Linked DNA regions of Homo sapiens. The protein of the gene in region 2 interacts with the protein of the main gene of each other region in a pairwise test. Each region holds a gene or a part of one and is shown on either strand. Other genes may lie near its edges.

Evidence for each region.
Region 1: the proteins of SLF1 (region 2) and USP21 interact in a two-hybrid assay, tested with the Homo sapiens proteins (one study listed by BioGRID).
Region 3: the proteins of SLF1 (region 2) and SLF2 interact in binary tests that used the Homo sapiens proteins (3 or more experiments, as listed by UniProt).

Annotation. Positions count from the first base shown.
Region 1 is NC_000001.11:161,162,172-161,166,223, reverse strand, and holds the end of USP21 (ubiquitin carboxyl-terminal hydrolase 21), read right to left. Parts: intron 3,955-4,052; coding exon 3,834-3,954; intron 3,610-3,833; coding exon 3,498-3,609; intron 3,306-3,497; coding exon 3,150-3,305; intron 2,670-3,149; coding exon 2,605-2,669; intron 2,347-2,604; coding exon 2,243-2,346; intron 2,061-2,242; coding exon 1,974-2,060; exon of another isoform or gene 1,968-1,973; intron 1,691-1,967; coding exon 1,612-1,690; coding exon of another isoform or gene 1,390-1,611; coding exon 1,282-1,389; intron 1,196-1,281; coding exon 1,081-1,195; intron 868-1,080; coding exon 777-867; 3' UTR 501-776; downstream 1-500. Other genes in the region: PPOX (protoporphyrinogen oxidase), read right to left, coding at 51-156. UniProt on the Homo sapiens protein: Deubiquitinates histone H2A, a specific tag for epigenetic transcriptional repression, thereby acting as a coactivator.
Region 2 is NC_000005.10:94,663,242-94,670,757, forward strand, and holds part of SLF1 (SMC5-SMC6 complex localization factor protein 1), read left to right. Parts: intron 1-508; coding exon 509-667; intron 668-2,619; coding exon 2,620-2,783; intron 2,784-6,909; coding exon 6,910-7,038; intron 7,039-7,516. UniProt on the Homo sapiens protein: Plays a role in the DNA damage response (DDR) pathway by regulating postreplication repair of UV-damaged DNA and genomic stability maintenance.
Region 3 is NC_000010.11:100,908,769-100,916,156, reverse strand, and holds the start of SLF2 (SMC5-SMC6 complex localization factor protein 2), read right to left. Parts: upstream 3,195-7,388; 5' UTR 3,047-3,194; coding exon 2,907-3,046; coding exon of another isoform or gene 2,855-2,906; exon of another isoform or gene 1,088-2,854; intron 159-1,087; coding exon 115-158; intron 1-114. UniProt on the Homo sapiens protein: Plays a role in the DNA damage response (DDR) pathway by regulating postreplication repair of UV-damaged DNA and genomic stability maintenance.

The DNA.
Region 1 (4,052 bases), on a different chromosome or scaffold from region 2:
AGGCGGCGAGCGCTTAATGCTGGAGTTAGCGTTCCCCAGCACAAGCTTACCAGGTCCAGCTAGGGTGACAACCCTAGAGGGAAGGCCGCAGGAGCTTTGGTCGTAGGGAGAATAGATAGGGACACTTAAGGCCAGTCCACGGGGAGGCGGCTCCATAAACAGCTCCTTGATGTTAGCAACAGACCGGGCCTACGGGAGCTAGGGCCGCCCGGCAACGTACCCAGTGTTTGTCAACAGTGGCACTCCCCCATCGCCGACCAAACCAGTCGCCCCAGAGCCTGCACGCAGCCTCACTCAAGTATGCCTTTCCTCTTTTCCTCCCAGTACATAACCTTCACTGCTGGGGGACACAGGTCCGGGTCCAGCACCATCCCCGAAACCTTCCCCCTCGGCTCTGAGAGCGCCCCCACCTGTTAGAGAGGGAACTTGGGTCCCAAGAAGACTCCAATTTGGCTCAGTTCTCTATCACCCCCTAAGCAAAAATACAAATAAGCACATCATTTTTTCTTAATAAATTTATTCACAAAAAGTGATATTGCAGAGGGTCTGGGGGCTGTACATGGGCAGGGGCTTGGTGAGCTTTGTACATGGGGCTGGGAGACAAGGGAGCCTCCAGGTGGAAGGGTATTTTTTAATAAAAAAAATAATGGAGCTACAACCACCCCCTCCCCCCTCCCCGATTAAAAAGACACAAAAATAGACGTCTCTGAGGTAAACGGGGAGCCTGGGGCTTAAGGGTGTTTAAAGGGCTTCACAGGTGCCAGAGCTTAGAGGTGTCACAGGCACCGGGGTGGCTCCTGCATCAGTTGGTAGAACAGCACGTAGCCCTCGCTGGATGCCACCTGGTTTTCACTGACAGGGGAGACACTAGGAAAAAAGGAGATCGGGAAAGGGTTGTGGTCATTCCTGTTTACTCCCTTCTCCCTACAAGACCGAACCTCAGAGCATCCAGGAAATGATCAGGCAAGACCTCCACCTCTCCTTTCACCTGGCACTCTGCTCTCCTGGAGCTTCATAGAAGGGGAGGGTGTCAGGGCTGAGTGGGAATGGGGCAGGATGTAAATAGGAGGCTATTCTCACCGAGAGTCATTGTAGACATGCCAACCAGTCTGGCACCGGCACAGGGCTGTGTAGTGGCCATAGTGGACGCTGCCTGAGTGGTTGCAAAGGGCATACAGCTGGTATACAGGACTTCCTGCGGGGTTGGAGATGATCAAGTTCTATAATCAGAGCTGTGCCCCCACTCCTTTGGCTCCTTAGGACTTTCCCCACCAGACTCACCGGCTTTGTCACTGGCAAAGTCCCCTAGGCTCAGTCGCTGCAGTGGAAAGTCTACACCTACTGAACTTTTTTTGATGGAGCCTCGGGAGGCAGAAAATCGATTCAGATCTAAGCCCTGGTTAAGGAGCATTTGGGAGGCAGTGGGCCTCTGAGGGGAACTTCTTCTATCCTGAAAGCTGTCCTCTCCCCACTCCCGACACACTGGGAGCATCTTGTGGAAAAGTGGGTGGCAGACTTTTCCTAAGGAAAATTCAATTCTCTGGAAACATGGAGGAAAGAGAATGTATGGGAGGTATCCTAAGAGAAGTAAGAATCTGAAGATTAGGATATGGAGCACGAGGATTCGAGGGAATCTTTGTACTGTCAACTTTTTGGTACTTCGAGTTTTCTGCCGACATCGGTCACACACCTGAATAAATGGCAAACAGTGTTAGGTTAATATGCTCCTAACCTCAATTGGCTTTTCTGACACCCCGATCCACATACAAATTTAGTATGCTCTTCATTACAGCTGGATCCTCTTGGCTTCTCCCCTTTGCTCTAGGAGTACTAGAACAGATCTGAGACTCCAACACAAACCCAGATACATAAATATTATTCCCCATATGAAGACATCATGCAATCCCTTTTATCCACATGGAGTCCCCCCAGGTCTCCCACCCTTACTGTATCCCTTGTGAACCTCCACATACTGGGGCATTCTCCGACTCTAGCTCTTCTTCCTTAGTGAAAAGGTTGAAACAATCCCGCAGAGACACCTTGCCCCCAGCAAATCCTTTCTGGGGGAAAAGGGGAAGAAAGGTCAACATGTTCTGAATTTCCTTTTCCAACTCTTCTCAATCAATCCAGGCTTCAGTTCTGCTCCAGAAACCCACAGGGTTCCCGCCCACACTCTGGGGGTGGGTAGGCTTGGGTCACAGAGCCCCTGTCCTGTCCACCCCGGAATCCTCTGGAATCCCACCTTGGGGATGGGCAGGGACAGGTCACAAAAAACCTCGAAGGTCGTGGAGCGATACCCACAGGCCTGGCACTTGAGACAACTTTTCAACTGGCCCACAAACAGGTCTAGACAGAAGCACAGGGACAGGAGAAAAGGTCATTGTTGGATGTTATGAGATGATTTCTTGGATTTCCATCTCTTCCTGCCCCTTTGCTTGACCCTTCCTTTCCCACTACCAACACTCCTAATCAACTCTTCACACAGCTTCACATTTGCATCATCCAGTCTTGTTCCCATACCCCTTGATAGTATCGATTTTTCCCCCCAAGCCTGTACCCCCCTCACACACTAATTTTCCCTCATTGCTTTGCCCCATTCCATACCCACAATCTTGCTGTCCTCTCGCTCCAGGTAACGTTTCCACATTAGGTTGGCTCGGTCATCATCACTACCACAGATCAAAGGAAGTGGGGAGCACCCATGAGACAGCAGGAACACTGGGCACCCCCAACACCCACTGAAACAACCTACAGAGCCCTACTCCCCATCCACACCCCTGCTCCTTCCCTAAATTTCAAGGAAAAGTCAAAAGAATAATGCCTCAATGAACTTTCTAGGGAAATCCGAGGTGAGAGGAAAAGAAAGGAATGTACATAAGGGAAGAATATGCTGTCTTCCTCTACCTGTAAATGAATTATCCCCTTCTTCAATTTGGTGACATCCCTAGCATGATCTTCTGCCTCCATCTGCTCCCTTAGACTCCCCCTCTTCCTTCCTTCCTTCTACTTCTATGTTGCTTCTCATACTATTTTCTATACTAAAGGGTTTCCCTGGACCCTACATCTTCAATCTTTACTAGTTTAGTTCTATGAAGTGTGAATGATGCTGATAAACTACGGGGAAAGGAGGTAGAGGGAACGACCCTTACCTTAACTCAGGTTCTTCTAGCAGAGCCCCTCCTCGGCGGGGTGGAGAGGGAACTGGACCATTGGCAAGTATCGGTGGAGCCCGGCGGCCTCGGCGGTTGATTTCAAGGTGTAGCCGCTCCATGAGGAGCTTCAGGAACTCTTGGGCATCCTGCTGGCTACAGCCAGACAAAGAGTATGGGCAACTGACTCCTCTCCTAGTCCACAGACACTATTCCCTGCCCAGATATTGGTCCCCACTTCCTGGATGAAGAACATCTCAAGGCTCAGAACAATGCTGCCAGGGCCCTTGCTTGGCCCTACCCCCAGACATGGCCAGAGAGAAATCCCATAGCCTCCAGCTCTCCCACCTGTATCCAGAGAAGGAGGGAACATATTTCTGGAAGACAGCTCGGAATCGAGTAGGATTCACAGCTTCGCAGGAGTCAGGGTGCCAGAGGGCACCAATCACATCTGCAAAGGCTGTTGGGATGGGAGTGGGGAAGGCAAACAAAGGTTAATGTCTGGAAGAGGCAAGCAAAAGGTGGCTCAGAGGGTAGAAAATAACCTTTAGGAAAGTAGGCACTGGGAAAAGTAGATACAACTGCCAGATTTAAGGGTTGGGGGCCACCACCAGTGGCAGATGGACCTGCAAGTGGTTGGGGAAAAAGGGACTTGAACAGAGGGAGCAGGAGTTGTTGCCCCACCTTCAGTGAGCTCTTGGGCTCGGCCTCCTCCAGGCACCTCTTGCCGGAAGTCCCTTCTCAGACAGAAGTCCCGAAGAGGTCGAGTGCTGCTCAGACACTGCAGCACAGCATTCAGGAAGCACTGGGGAGCAGTAGGGACACTGCTGTTATCTCTCCAGACCACTGCCCAGGAAGCCTTAGAAGAGCTTCAGAGCTCTCCTTCCACATGCCTTCCCCAAG
Region 2 (7,516 bases):
TATAACAAGTAATAAAATACATTCATACATATCATCCTCTTTGAACTACATAGTCTCATCCAGCAGCAAGGCCAGGAATTATCTTCATTTCACAGATGAGGAAATTAAAATTTGTTACTAGGCTGGGTGCAGTGGCTTACGCCTATAATCCCAGCACTTTGGGAGGCCAAGGCAAGTGGATCACCTGAGGTCAGGAGTTTGAGACCAGCCTGGCCAACATGGTGAAACCCCGTCTCTGCTAAGAATACAAAAATCAGCTGGGTGTGGTGGCACGCATCCATAGGCCCAGCTATTCAGGAGGTTGAGGCAGGAGAATCACTTGAACCTGGGAGACGGAGGTTGCAAGTGAGCCGAGATCGCACCACTGCATTCCAGCCTGGGTAACAGAGTGAGACTCCGTCTCAAATGAATGAATGAATAAATAAATAATAAATTCTTACTAATTCATGATTTGATTGCAAAATTTTATCTTTCTTTTCTCTGAATCATAGAATCTTTCCTTTCTTAGGTTAAAAATGCTGAATTTCCCAGAGGTGTATTAAATTTAATTGAAAGCCTCATAGAAGGACATTTTTTTAAAGAAGCAATTGAGGAACTTTCCACTTTGCAGGCACATTATATCCCTCCTGTATGCGTTCTTCATGCCCTTCTAGAGAACGTTCTACAGGTAAGAGCAGCCTTAAGGATTTATAATCTTTTTTTCAAAGAATGTTAAAATGTGAACATTTTCTCACTTTTTGTATGTTTACAGTTTATTTTCCCTGTTCAGTGTTTTTTTTTCTTCATTTCACTAATGCAGTACCCATTTATTACTACTGTTCTGTTTTCCAGCTACATACTAGGTACTACTCTTAGTGCTTTAGCTAATGATTTTCTCAGGATTTCTAAGATAATTTTGTTTTGGGGAAAAAGGTTATCTAATTTTTCTCACGGCAGTAAAGTATCAAATATAAAATTCAGATTATGGTGATCTAGAATTACATTTGGTAAATTACTCCATTAGTACATTGATGATTATCATTTTTATTTATAGTATACATAATGAACATACTCTTTGTTTAAAAAGAAATAGAGGCAAGTTCCCTCTCTGTTGTCCAGGCTGGACTGCAGTGGTGTGATCATGGCTCACTGTGGCCTCAACCTCCTGGGCTCAAGTAGTCCCCCTGCTTCAGCCTCCCAAGTAGCTGGGACTGTAGGCGCATGCCACCATGCCTGGCTAATTTTTAAATTTTTTGTAGAGATGGAGTCTTGCTATGTTGCCCATGCTGGGAACATACCCAAACTGTGTAAACCAATAGGAACAAATATTCAAAGATCGCTTTCTAATCATGCCCTTCACCAAGGTGCTAATTTGATAACATAACAGGCATAAGCTTTGTCAGGTATGTTATGTTGGTGATAAGTAAGCATGTTGCATGAATAGTTTGTTACTTTTAGTTCCTTTCAGGTAACATTTGAGACCTCTTAAATCTCACTATAATTGTGAAAAGGAAAATGTGTATTCCATCTAAGGTAGTGTTAATAGAAGGGATTACCCAATGTATAGATAGAGTCATCCCTTGCTGTCACAGGATATTGGTTTCAGGACCTTTGTGGATACTGAAATCTGCACATAATCAAGTCCTGCAGTTGCTTCTTCAGAACCTGCACTTATAGGAAAAGTCAGCCCTCCACATACGAAGGTTTTACATCCTGTGAATACTGTATTTTTAAAGGTTTTTCTTTTAGAGGTAATTGTAAAATTTTCCCTTACTACTAGGGAAAAAAATTTCCTTCACTACTGAAGGCAATAGAAAATAATTAATACAATAACTAATAAGATACAGTCATACATATCATCCTCTTTGAACTACATAATCTCATTCAGCAGCAAGGGCAGGAATTATCTTTATTTTACAGGTGAGGAAATTAAAACTTCTTAGTAGGCCGGGTGCTGTGGCTCACACCTGTAATTCCAGCACTTTCAGAGGCCGAGGCCTCCCAAATACAGAATACTGTATTTAATTGCAGTTGTAGAACCTATGGACGTGAAGGGTAGGCTGCATTTATTGGAAAAAAATTCATGTGTAAGTGGACCCATGCAGTTAAAACCTGTTATTCAGGTATCAGCTGTACATAGAGTGTGCCTGTCTCTCAGTTGCTTTATTTAATTAGCTAAACATGATGCTTCCATCTGCTCTCCTTTGTCTAAACACGTATATTTGGCAAGAAACTTAGGCCAGCGTTAGGCCGGGCGTGGTGGCTCACACCTGTAATCCCAGCACTTTGGGAGGCTGAGGTGGGCAGATCACAAGGTCGGGAGTTCAAGACTAGCCTGGCCAACATAGTGAAATCCCATCTCTACTAAAAATACAAAAATTAGCCAGGCATGGTGGTGGGTGCCTGTAGTCCCAGCTACTTACTCAGGAGGCTGAGGCAGAAAAATCGCTTGAACCCAGGAGGCGGAGGTTGAGGTAAGCCAAGATCGTGCCACTGCACTCCAGCCTGGGTGACAGAGCCAGACTCCGTCTCAAAAAAGAAAGTTAGGCCAGGGTTACTGTTTTGGTTTTAGACTGAATTAGAGAGTCAAACTACTTTTAGCTATAGTGTTTTATTTGTTTGTTTATTTTTAAATAATAGGATAACATAGATACATTTTCTGGTCGATACTTTCATATATTGTCAGCTCTTCTTCACCTGCATCCTCCTTGGAAGTCTCCAGCCATGTCGAGATATTATTTAGAGTTGTTTCAGTGTCCAACTTGTATGAAAGGAGCATGGTCTTTAGTAGAAGTCCTTATCAGGTAAGGAATTTCACATTTGACGATGCTACATTTCATTGAGTAGTTGTTATGCTAATTATTTTTTTAAGATACTGATGAAAGAAGTATCTTTCTACTTTTGGAAAAGTTTTGTTGCAAATACAAATATGTATTGTATTTATTGCAAAACTTATGAAAAGGCAAATCTATATTGGTCATGTTTTTCAGTCTGTTTCCTAAAAAAATAAAAAATGAATGCATGAAATGGACTCACTAGAAAGCCAAATCATTATTATTTTTAACAAAATAGAAATTTGTGTATTGTTTTTTAAATGAAGAAAATTAATTTATGGAATATGCATATCATCAGTTTTTGTCACCAAAAGTGTAGACATTTGTAACTATAGTATCTATTTTAGGGCTTCAGTTATATTTTTTTCAGCTAGAAATTTGAATTTTAAAACAGAACTTAATATTTCCTAAATATGTCATCTCTTTTATGCTTCTGCACATGCTGTCACTGCCTAGACCTTCCTCTGTCTTTCAGTTGTTAGTGTCTCCAGAAATTCTGTTTCACCTTCTTTCTCCCTAACAGAAAATGTTTTCCCCTTGCTATTCAAATAACTGTATTTGATAACCCTTATTCTTCTGGGAAGATCTTTTCTTTTTTTGAGACATGAGTCTCGCTCTGTCACCCAGGCTGGAGTGCAGTGGCCTGATCTTGGCTCACTGTAACCTCTACCTCCCAGGCTCAAGCAATTCTTATGCCTTAGCCTTCCAAGTAGCTAGAGTTACAGGCATGTGCCTCCACGTCCAGCTAATTTTTGTATTTTTTCATTTTTAGTAGAGATGGGCTTTTACCATGTTGGCCAGGCTGGTCTCGAATTGCTGGCCTCAAGTGATCTGCCTGACTTGGGCTCCCAAAGTCCTGGGATTATAGGAGTGGACCATCACGCCTGGCTGGGAAGATCTTTTTTTTTTTTTTTTTTTTTTTAATTTAAGTGTCCAGTTTCAGGAGGTTCATAGTGGAGAAAGGACACCTGACTAGCCATGCAAAGGCTAGACCTCTGGTTAGCTCTTTGAGATCATAAAGATTCACATACCATCTTGGTTGTGATATATTTAAAGTGAGCTAATCAGTTAACCAGCATGCATTTATTCATTCTTTTAACAAATTCTTGAGTACTTACGGAGAGCCAGACACTGTACTACATTTTAGGGATTAAAAAGATGATTTAAATAACAGTTCCTGCACTTTGAAAGTGACTGAGATGTAAACAATACCGCACAAAAGTACAAGCCCAACAGTACAAGCCCAGCATAGGTATATGATGTGAGAAAATAGAGTTTATGTGGCTGACATCCTTCATAATTTCCAAATCTATTCCTTTCTTCACTGTCAATTGTCTTTATTTTAAAGTTCCTGTTTCTTCTTATATAAACTATTGCAGTAGCTGCTTTATTGATCTTGGGTCTACTTTTTTCCTTTTAATTTTTCTTCCAAAGTACCCCCCCACAGTATGCTCTTTCCAAAGTGATCTTGTCATTTCCCATATTAAAGTCCTTCATTGACTCACATACATTGAACTACCTATAGAAGATGGTTCAGATTTCTTAGCGAAATACGTAAGACCCTTCATGAGTTAGCCCTTATATATGTCTCAGTTCTCATCTTCACCACTTTCTTGAATGTGTCCAATAGTTATTTTCCATATCCTGTCTTTTGCTCTTATGTTTTCCGAATTTCCTAGCTTTTTTGTTTGTTTGTTTGTTTTGTTTTGTTTTGTTTTTTAAGACACTCTGTTGCCCAGACTGGAGTGCAATGGCACAATCACGGCTCACTGCAGCCTGAAACTCCCAGGCTCAGGTGATCCTCCCGCCTCAGCCTCCTGAATAGCTGGGACTACAGGCATGTGCTCCCACGCCTGGCTAGTTTTGTATTTTTTGTAGAAATGGGGTTTTACCATGTTTCCCAGGCTGGTCTCCACCACTTGAGCTCAAGTTTTCTGCCCGCCTCAGCCTCCCAAAGTGCCAGGATTAAAGGCATGAGCCACCATGCCTCACTGCTTCGTTTCACTTCTCTTCTCTCTTCTCTCCTCTCTCCTCTCCTCTCTTCTCCTTTGTCCCTTGTCTTCACTTTTCTTCCTTTCCCTTTTCCCTTTTCTTTTCTCTTCTTTCCTTTTCAAATCTCACTGTCACCAAGGACAGTGTGCAGTGGCGGGATCATAGCTCACTGCAATCTTGAGCTCCTGGGTTCAGGCCACTCTCCTGCCTCAGCCTCCTGAGTACCTGGGACTACAGGTGCCCACCACCACACCTGGCCAATTTTGTTGTTGTGGTTGTGGTTGTAGTTTGTTTGTTTGTTTTTTGAGAAGAAGTTTCGCTCTGTTGCCCAGGCTGGAGTGCAGTGGTGCGATCTCGGCTCACTGCAACCTCCGCCTCGCAGGATCAAGCGATTCTCCTGCCTCAGCCTCCCAAGTAGCTGGGATTACAGGCATGCGCCACCACGCCTTGCTGATTTTTTTTTGTATTTGGTAGAGATGGAGTTTTACCATGTTGGTCAGGCTGGTCTCAAACTCCTGACCTTAGGTGATCCACCCGCCTCCACTTCCCAAAGTGCTGGGATTACAGGCATGAGCTACTGTGCCAGGCCTACATGACTAATTTTTAAATTTTTTGTAGAGGTGAAGTCTCCCTGTGTTGCCCAGGCTGGTCTCAAATTCCTGGGCTCAAGCAATCCTCCTACCTTGTCCTCCCAAAGCACTGGGATTACAGGAATGGGCCACCATGCTCAGCCATAGTTTTCCCTTAAAATGCAATTTAGCTGCCACTTTCTTACTCTTGACCTTTCCTTTAAGTTTGTCATTCACATCAGGCCTATGACTTTCTTAAAGAGAGGTGCTCAGTCTTGTTTTTCTTTCTTTAAACTTCCCTCTTACAGAAGGTGTTCAGTCTTAAATATCTCCATCCTTAATATCTAATATAATGCCTGGAATGTAAGTACTTAATAAAGGTTTGGATGAATTTATTGATGCTGTAGGTGATAGATTTTGGGCAGCTTAAAAATAGACTTTTAAACAAAAATACCCAGATTTCATTTCAAAATAATGGGGTACTGTGGAGGTGCTTAGGGAAGTGGTAGGAATATGAATGAGCTAAGTAATACTAGTCTCTACTTTTGTATATATTTGAAATATTCCATAATGCATAGAGAAACGTAAGTTCTCTATCTCTGACAGTTTTCAGAAAGACTGATTAACTATGTGGGCATGAAGGATCTTATAGATAGATTGAATATTAAATAAATTGTTAAAGCTACTAAGGACTCTCCTGAGAATGTTGTATTAAAAAAGAAGACAGCGGAAGTGGAGACAGAGGTAGAAAGTTATAAGTGCATTGTTGATATAATCAATAAGAAAAGTGGGAGATTGTAATAAATAGTGTTACCTAGACACTATTTCTTAAATCCTAGAGTTCTGAGTAATCTTCTATTCTCTTTAGAAATATATTATAGAAGTGTGCTGTCTGACCCAATAGCCACTAGCCATATCTATTTATATTTAAATTTTATTCAGACAAAGTAATTAAAAATGTGGGTCCTTGGGTATACAAGCCACATTTCAAGTGTCTAGTAGAACATATACATCATCACAGAAAGTTCAGTTGGAGAGGACTGCTCTAGAAGACAGAAAGAAAATAAAATAATGAATATTAAAAACGCTAAAAAAGTAGCCCTAAATAATCTTCATTTACTAACTAATGAAAAAGAAAGTAATCTTGGGTAAGAAAGAGGAGGATTCTGGCGAGTATTATAAATTGAGAGGTTAGCTGGTCATTTAAATCAAAAGGACTTAATGAAATCTATAATCTTTGTTCTCATCAGTGAAATAAAGAGCACAAAGGGAGAGTACCTGCTAGTCATTAAATATTATAATAACTTGAAAAATTGAGAAATTAGATCTATTTATTAAGAATTAAGTACTCATGAGATATTTGACATTGTTTAATTTTTGAAGGAAGAAATATATTCATAAAATTTTGTTGAACTTTCTATTTTAAGAAAATTTTATTAAAATTCCAGCAGTATTCTAGAAGGAGAAATATTTTGTTCACAAATGACTTAGTGAATTGCTTGTATGTTATAGATTTTTGGGTTCATGTTTTTCAGGTCTTGCCTTTTCAATGAAAGCTTTTGTCATCAAATTTCAGAAAATATTGGCTCCAAGGTGCTCCACCTGACGCTACTCAAATTTTTCTTTAATTTAATTGAAAGTGAAGTACAACATCTGAGTCAAAAGTAAGTTCTAATCGCAAGAATAACACTTTTCTAAATTTTGGTTGTTTTTATGCACCATTTTTTTTTTACAATTATTATAAATATATTTCTAAAAAGTCACCTTATTTTCTATTTTAAGATAGATTTGTTTTTAAAACATATTTCCAGATATTCTCAGTGGGAGTAAAGGTTTATATGCCCTTTTAAAAAATTTCCTCAGTTCACTTCCACTGTTCATTTGGATGGATAATAGTGTTTTCATTTTTTAGGATTTTAAAAAAATTCTTTAGTAATTGAATGCTAAGTAAAAAACTACACCAATTTTAAACACTGAGCCTACAATGGTAAGTTTTGCTCCTGCTCTAAAACTTGCAGATAGATTACTGTGTATATATACATTGTCAGTGACTTTATTGAACTGGGGCCATTTTTTATATTTTGTCCTTTATTATAATTGTTATAATCTTTATATTTTATGATCTATGTTCAAAAATTGCTA
Region 3 (7,388 bases), on a different chromosome or scaffold from region 2:
TCAATTTTGAACACTACGTTTACTAAAACAGTTTAGAGTAGGTTTTAAAGTTGAATCTGTCTCTCTCCTCACCCCCAAAATAGCCCACAAAAAATGCATCAACAGTGTACATACCTTGTTTTGAAGCTGGTTTGAAGAAATCTATAATTGACTGCTTCCTGAAAATAAAAGCATAATATGGCATCATATAAGCAAATATTAAAACCTTCATAACTCAGATTAAATGGAGAAAGATTTATAAAATAAAGGCTGGATTTCACTATTTGGTTTAATAAAGTTCTGACAATGGTAACAATGCTTTGCTAAACTGTTCATTAAAAAAACAGAAAATATAACGTATCACTTCCTATAGGAGTTCATTTATAAAAATACAACTGAGGTTTATATTATTTATAGTACTTAAATAGGTCAGACTGGTGTGTAGACCCAAGGAATTAGTACAGAGTGCTTCTTAAGACTGAAATGTTCACGGCTACATGGTAGAATGCAACATCTTGGGTATCAGCATATGAACCTACTTGTTCTCTGCAGACATTGATACAAAATAATTACTTGGTATCTAAGCACAGCTGCGTTTTAAAATTTAGAATAACAAGCTAAAAAAAAACTCAATAGATGTATGCCAAATGAATAATGGGGATTATAAAAATGGAGTAAAACTTGAACAGACTCTCATAACAAGAGTAGAACAGTAGATGGTAGAATGGCAATACAGGTGATTTGGCTGATCTAGGGAATCAGTTGAAGAGGAGTTTGCTGGACAAGGGCAGAAAAGAAAAATACCAAACTTATGCTACCCTCTTTATACATTAAGATGTTAATCTAAGTAACAGCAGAAATTAGAATGAGTTGTCACAACTAGTTTCAAATTCTTAATTTTTTATCAAAGAATCCTTAAGATAGTTACAAAAATAACACATTGCTTGGGAAAAACACAAGGAGAAAAGGAAGAAAGTTAACAAGAATAACAAAAACCAAATTAATTTTTAAGAATTTCTGTACCGTAAAGACTGGATTTCATTATCTGGCTTAACTAATCAAGTTCTGACATTGGCAATAATGCTAAAGTGAAATAGGAATCCATTACCAGAATTCGTATTCTGATTTGTTCACTGTAGAGTTGTCAGCTGCAAAAAAGGGGATGTTATGATATGCTGAACAAAAAATTAACTTTCTGGTAAATTTTGCTAAAATGTATCATTTTACTGAAAGAGAATAAGCTATAGACTATTGATTTCCCTAAACATTCATCCACTATGAGGTTGGAATGCTCAGTGAAAATTCCAACAATCCAAGTTTCTTGAAGGTTAAGCTTCTTGTACACTTTACTGGTCACATTAGAAGAGCAATGCACATCTTTACTGGTTTACCAAGTCCATCACGCTTGTTTGAGATGCTGGTATAAAAGCTAAGTGCTTATGAGATGAATATGAGTGACGGGCTATGGAAGAATATATGCATTTGTTTACATAAATTATACTAGGCAAATTAACTCCACCAGAGTAAATGTTGGAGGTTCTGCAAAGGGAAGAAGGATGATACCTTGTTATTGATCTTGTTATTGATTGAGGAGAGATGGGAAGGGACCCAGAAGCAGCTCATTTGTTGCACACAAGATAATTCTAAATGCATTTTACTAAATGTAACACTGTATCTCTTCCCTAAAATATTGGACCTCAGACTCCTTTTTGATTAATACACCAGAAAGAGAAAAAATGATTTTGGGTAAAACATACAAGAAACCTGTAAAATAACCATGAATGTAACTTTCAAGAGGTAGGTTCTCTAAGTTCATATGCACACAAAATGTCCACTGCTTATTTAACAACTGGCTTAAAAAAAAACACACACACACACACAATTATAACAGTTTCACAAACCCTTATCTGAACCTTCTGGGGCCAAATGTGTTTTAGAATTCTGAATTTATCAGATTTTAGGAAGGGGATAACTTGGATGTATTATGGAAAGTCCCCAGTGGGGTCTGGTGCTGCAACCTGTAATCAAATCCACTGACATTTCTCCAGCAAAACATGAATATTCACACTTAATGGGATAAAGACCACAAACAGCCTTACATTAGTTTTAGTCAGATCTGGCTGCCCAGTAAGATGTGGTGCCAAACTTACTGAAAACGTTTTGGTTTTCATAGCTTTCTGGCTTTCAGAGTTAAGATAAGGGATTGTGGGCCTGTACCACAGTATTAGTAACATGAATATTGTTAAAACTTAATACAATTTAACTTAAAATAAAAGACAGTACCAAGTTCGTAGGGAATTTAAACATGTTTTATTGTCAGAGGATGTCATTAGATGAAACTCCCCATCTCATTACATAGCTCCCACAAAATCTTTACAAAAAAATTAGCCTCTTGGAGAGGCGTGAAGTTACTGAAAGAGAAAACACGTCACATTCCAAATCTGCAAGTTCTTTTAAGTATGAACTAGCGTGCACGCTGGACTACAAAGTAATTCGTGGAAGGGATTCCCTCATCACAGGTTACATAATTTCACCCACAACATAGAAAAGGTTTATATTACTAAACCACTAGGATCAGTAGAACTGACAACGTACAGAAAACGATCTAAATATGCATTAAGCAGTTAGGGTCCCGGGTCAAACTCTTGCAAAGGAAAAAAATCACTTTCTTTCTACCTAAGGCGGGTTCTCCGTAGCTGTCCAGGCTGGTGGTCACTAGACCAAGAGCAGCTGCCCAACTACAGAGAAGCAAACTCCAACTCCCAGTAGCCCCTGCGCGGAGGCGGGGCGGGGATTTGCCAGGCCCCGAAATGCCAACGCCTGAGCTCGCGGAGGATGGCGGGAACTGGAAGAGCGGCGGTCTGCAGCCCTCCCCTCATACCCTTGCCCCCGCGACCCGGCCCCTTCTCAAGCCCTCTGCACGGTACCTGTCCCCAGGACTCTCTGTTCTCTTTCCCGCTGCAGCATGGGCGGTACTACCGGGTCTCAGATGGCAGCGCGGGGGCGACGACCCCGGGGCTGGGGATGAGGGGAAACCTGGCCTAGCGGGCATGCAGCGCCTTGTCATGTCGGCGCCGCTGGCGACGGCGGCATGAGCCGTGGCTGGAGAAGTTGGGTGCGTGGTTGCCGTCTTGCTGCTGGGACTCCGGGAGGCTGTCGGAGCAGAGGTGGGCGGCACCCCCTTCTCTCTTCATGGCGGTTCTCTCTTCGGAAGTGACTCCGGCGTGAGCGGGAAGGAACCTGGGGACCAGTAAGGGGCGGGTCTTACTTCATGAATCACGTCTTGATTGGCTGGCACGGTGGTCATTTCGGTGGTGGCGCAATAGGAAGCCGCAGCCTCTCTGGAGAAGGCGGGGCTTGGGGACGGGGGAGGAAGAAACCTCCCCCTCCCACCCCGTCACATGCACTGAGGGCGCGCGCCTCTGGTCCCGGCCGCCTCGGCCTTGGCCGGCGCGCGGGGGCGGAAAGGCGCGGGCAGCAGCTGGCGGACAGCTGACGACACCCGCCTGGTTGAAGGCGAGGGGTGAGGGTTTGCTGAAGCAAACCGGAGCCCGGCAGCTGCCTTCGTTGAGGATGGCCAACACTTGGGCTTCCTGTGTCACACAATTGTGCCTCAGAAATCCGCAGCTGTTCATTACATCGTCTCTTTAACAGCTTAGGCCAAAGTGCCATAATACTGTCACAATTTGCTGAGGGATCTGCACAGCGCGATCCGAAGACTTGTCCATTCTACGACGGTTCTTGTTGAGTGTCAGCGGTAGATTATTTTTTTGTCTTTAAGAAGAAGAAAAAACCCCCAAAAAACTCCATTGGAATAAAGACAGTTGTTAATCCACAAAAGCATTTTGTTTCTCATGAGTTACCATGAAGTCTCTGCAGCCGACTTCCTTGGAGATTTTTTAAAGGAACACAAGGTCAGCTTTCAGTTTTCCATGTTAAGCGTGGGCAGCATAGATAAGTAAAAGCTGCCTGCAATCTCCAACCCTCCTTTGTAAAGGGCTTGTGCTCTGGAGGCTGTTAGCCATGGTTTTCCTTATAAACCGAGAGACTGGTCAGTATCTCTGAACCTCAGCCTCCACATCTGTAAAACGGGCATTTTACTCACTTTTCTGGGTAATTGTAAACCATAAAAGGATAAAACAGTGTACACTGCACAGTTCAGATTCTCTCATGTAACAGGTACAGAGCAAATTATAGTTCCCTTTCTTCCCCAGATAGATTCCTACAGCGAATTTTACTTCTTTACAAAATCTTCCAGAGACAGGTCAAATACTGTTGCAATAACTGTTAACAACCAAAATATCAATTTCAAGATGTCCAAGCTTTAATTGACAGAGTTATTTAATCAGTTGGATGGAAAAAAATCTTAAATGATATAAAATAATTTGGACGGGTCTTTCAAGTTTATTGTATAGAAATTGAACTATTGGCCTGATACAGTTGCTCACATCTATAATCCCAGCAGTTTGGGAGGCCAAGGCAGGTGGATAGCTTGAGCCCGGGAGTTGGAGACTAGCCTGGGCAACATAGCAAGACCCTGTCTCAAAAATAAATTAATTAATTAAAATTTAGAAAAAACGAAATTGAACTGTTCTGGTCACTAAGCATGCCTGACTGACTCCAAGTTCACCTCCTTTTCCCTTCCCCTTTAGTCCCCGGGAGGAAGAATTAATAAGGAATAAAGTGGACAAAAAGCTGGCAAAGTAGAGGGTCGAAGGTAAACAGTGAATATACAGGTTTCACATTCACCCCAAAAGCACATATGTACAGCTGTATACTAGCTAATGGTGGCGGAAGAAGGGAAGTGCCAAAATAGAGGGTACTTTTCTGCTCCTAATAGCGGAGAATTTACTATACGTAACATTGTTTTTTACATAAAAAAACATGATACTCAAAATGTGTTGAATGACTTACACATTTGCATTTTACATGTATTATTTCCTATCTCTTAGTGCTTTCTGTTGGATGTTTTTACACTAGGAAGTTTCTGTACTATAACAGAGCACATCTACGAAACATTTAATCCGATTCATTTCCTTGCATGCCTAATCGATAAAGAGTAATGCATAAAAACACGTTCTGCATGATCATTTAGTTGCTTTTCTTGGATTATAGTACTTGAATCATCCAGCCTCCAAAGTATCACTTTAAAGCCTGTACTCAAACTACCAAACAATAGTTTTCTCATTTTCTTAATCTGAGTAACAGATTATGGAGTTAAGTGAGGCAAGAAATCCCTCGATCAATAAATGGAGATGGAGTCATAATGAAAACACAATTTTAAAAATATCTTCTTAACGGGAAGTAGTTATCTAAATCCTCAATAAGCATCAAGACTCTTCTTTGTTTAAGCTGTGTACGAAAGTGGTACAGATTTGGGTTGCAGGGTGAAATATGTTCAACATATTAATAAGAACCCCAGGGGAACTTCTAGGGCCTAGGGCTCTTCTCCACCTCCCACCCCCAAATAGTACTGGACAGTCTATTTTGTGTTTATATCCTTTCTCCTAGTTTAAATGTGTACGTATATACCATGCATGCGTGTGCACGCACACATGTTTATTGTAAGGGTTTTTTACACTTCAATTTGTAGTGGGCTAAAAGGAGATGACCAGGAAACTACACTAGGTAAAAGATTTAAGGAGTTCAGATGCGTGCTTAGGAGGAGCTAATAGGGGAGAGAAAACTAGGATGGCAGGGGGGTTACTGGGGGGAAAGGACATTGAACAATGTAACCAAACCCAGTTAGAGACTTAAGACAAAACTTAGCTGGGATTTGGAAGAAAAGAGAAATTAAGGCTGGATGACCATAAAAGGCTAGTTTGGGAAGATTTCTGGGCATGGGGATGGGATGAGGATGCAAAGATTGAAGAAATGGAGTGGCTTCTTTGCACAAAGCTTCTGTGGGGGTGCAGCTCAGCTCAGTTTAGCACCCTGCCTTGTTAAAGACAACAGGAGGAGGGGGCTCTGGCCTTGATGAGAAGGAATGGGACAGCAGCAGAAACAATGTTACATGAACAACAGATCAAGTTTGCTGGGAAAATCAAGCCCAACGTGGGAGTTCCTGAGAGGAGTGACAGTATAACTCATGCCAGAGATCTTAAGCAGTCACACAGAGAGAAAACAGCTTGGGCAGATTGGTTCACACAGTACCTTAAGCAGGCAGGGACTGAGAACAAAAGGTCAGTAAGTGACAGAGAATGTTACCAAAAAGCAAAGAACTCTAAAAGTAATTTCTGATTGTACCCAGTAATAAATTTTTGCTCTGAAATTGCCACACATTTAATTAACTCCAAGGCTCTTGTTGGAAGGTGTTCTAGGGCAGGCCAAGAGACAAAGACTGATTTTCTGTAGAACTGCTGGGGGGAGGTGAAGGTGAGGGTAGAGGGTGGCCTGGGAAGGGGGATAAGGAACAGACTCAGAAAAACAGGAAATAATTAACTTGAAAGCCTGACAGAGAAAGACAGACCACGTGATGATCTCAAGAAGGGATGGCAAGCTCACAGCATCTCAAGATCCACACAAATCACTGTGCAAAAGGATGCCAAACTCGAAACTGCCCAAGTGCTTGGAAAAAGGACCTCCCAGGTTTAAGCGGCTGCTGGGGAAAAGCCAAATGTAAACTAATATCATGTCATGTAACCTAACGTTCTGGGAGTAATTAGTAGAGCTGCGCAAAAGCAGATCTAATGTGAAGGAACGTCCATTTCTTGTTCTATCATGATAGAATGGTGCCAGATAGTTTCCCACACTTCAGATACATGAGACACGTATTTGTGATTTTCAACATGTCTGAATATTTCCTATGCTGTTTATTAATGTTTTTCCTTAAATTGCTTTTTAAATTTAAGTACATTTATTTTAGGAGAAAACTTTAAATCATTCCCGTAAGTGGAAAATCAGTATCAATTTCCTAAAATGGAAGATAACTAAAAACTAATACTAGTAAAAATATATAACTAGTTTAAAAATATAAATATATCCAAGTTTCTTCTAGAGTTATCTTGTTTACCAGTGGTGGTGGTAGGCATTGATAGGCGTAGATATTACTCGTACATCTGAAATATAAGAAACTCTTGGGGAAATATTGATTTTAGGGATTCTATCCCATATTTAGGTGTTTTTCACACCCGGTTAGCAGCTCCTTAGAGGATTTTGAAATTGATGTAATGGGTTACAGACCATGTTTTTAAAAAAGAAAAAGACAATGGAATAGAGAATGTCTGTTCACTGCACACAACATATGGGCATGTGTTGTTTTGCAACTTTTTACTTCTTCAATTGTATATATATTTTATATGGTAGTGATGTAAAAGGTATTCCTGTGGCCCCTGCTTTGGGCCATGGTCGAAATATTTAAAAGTCATTGCTGTAATCTGTGTTCATATTTCATACTTGTGTGTATTGGT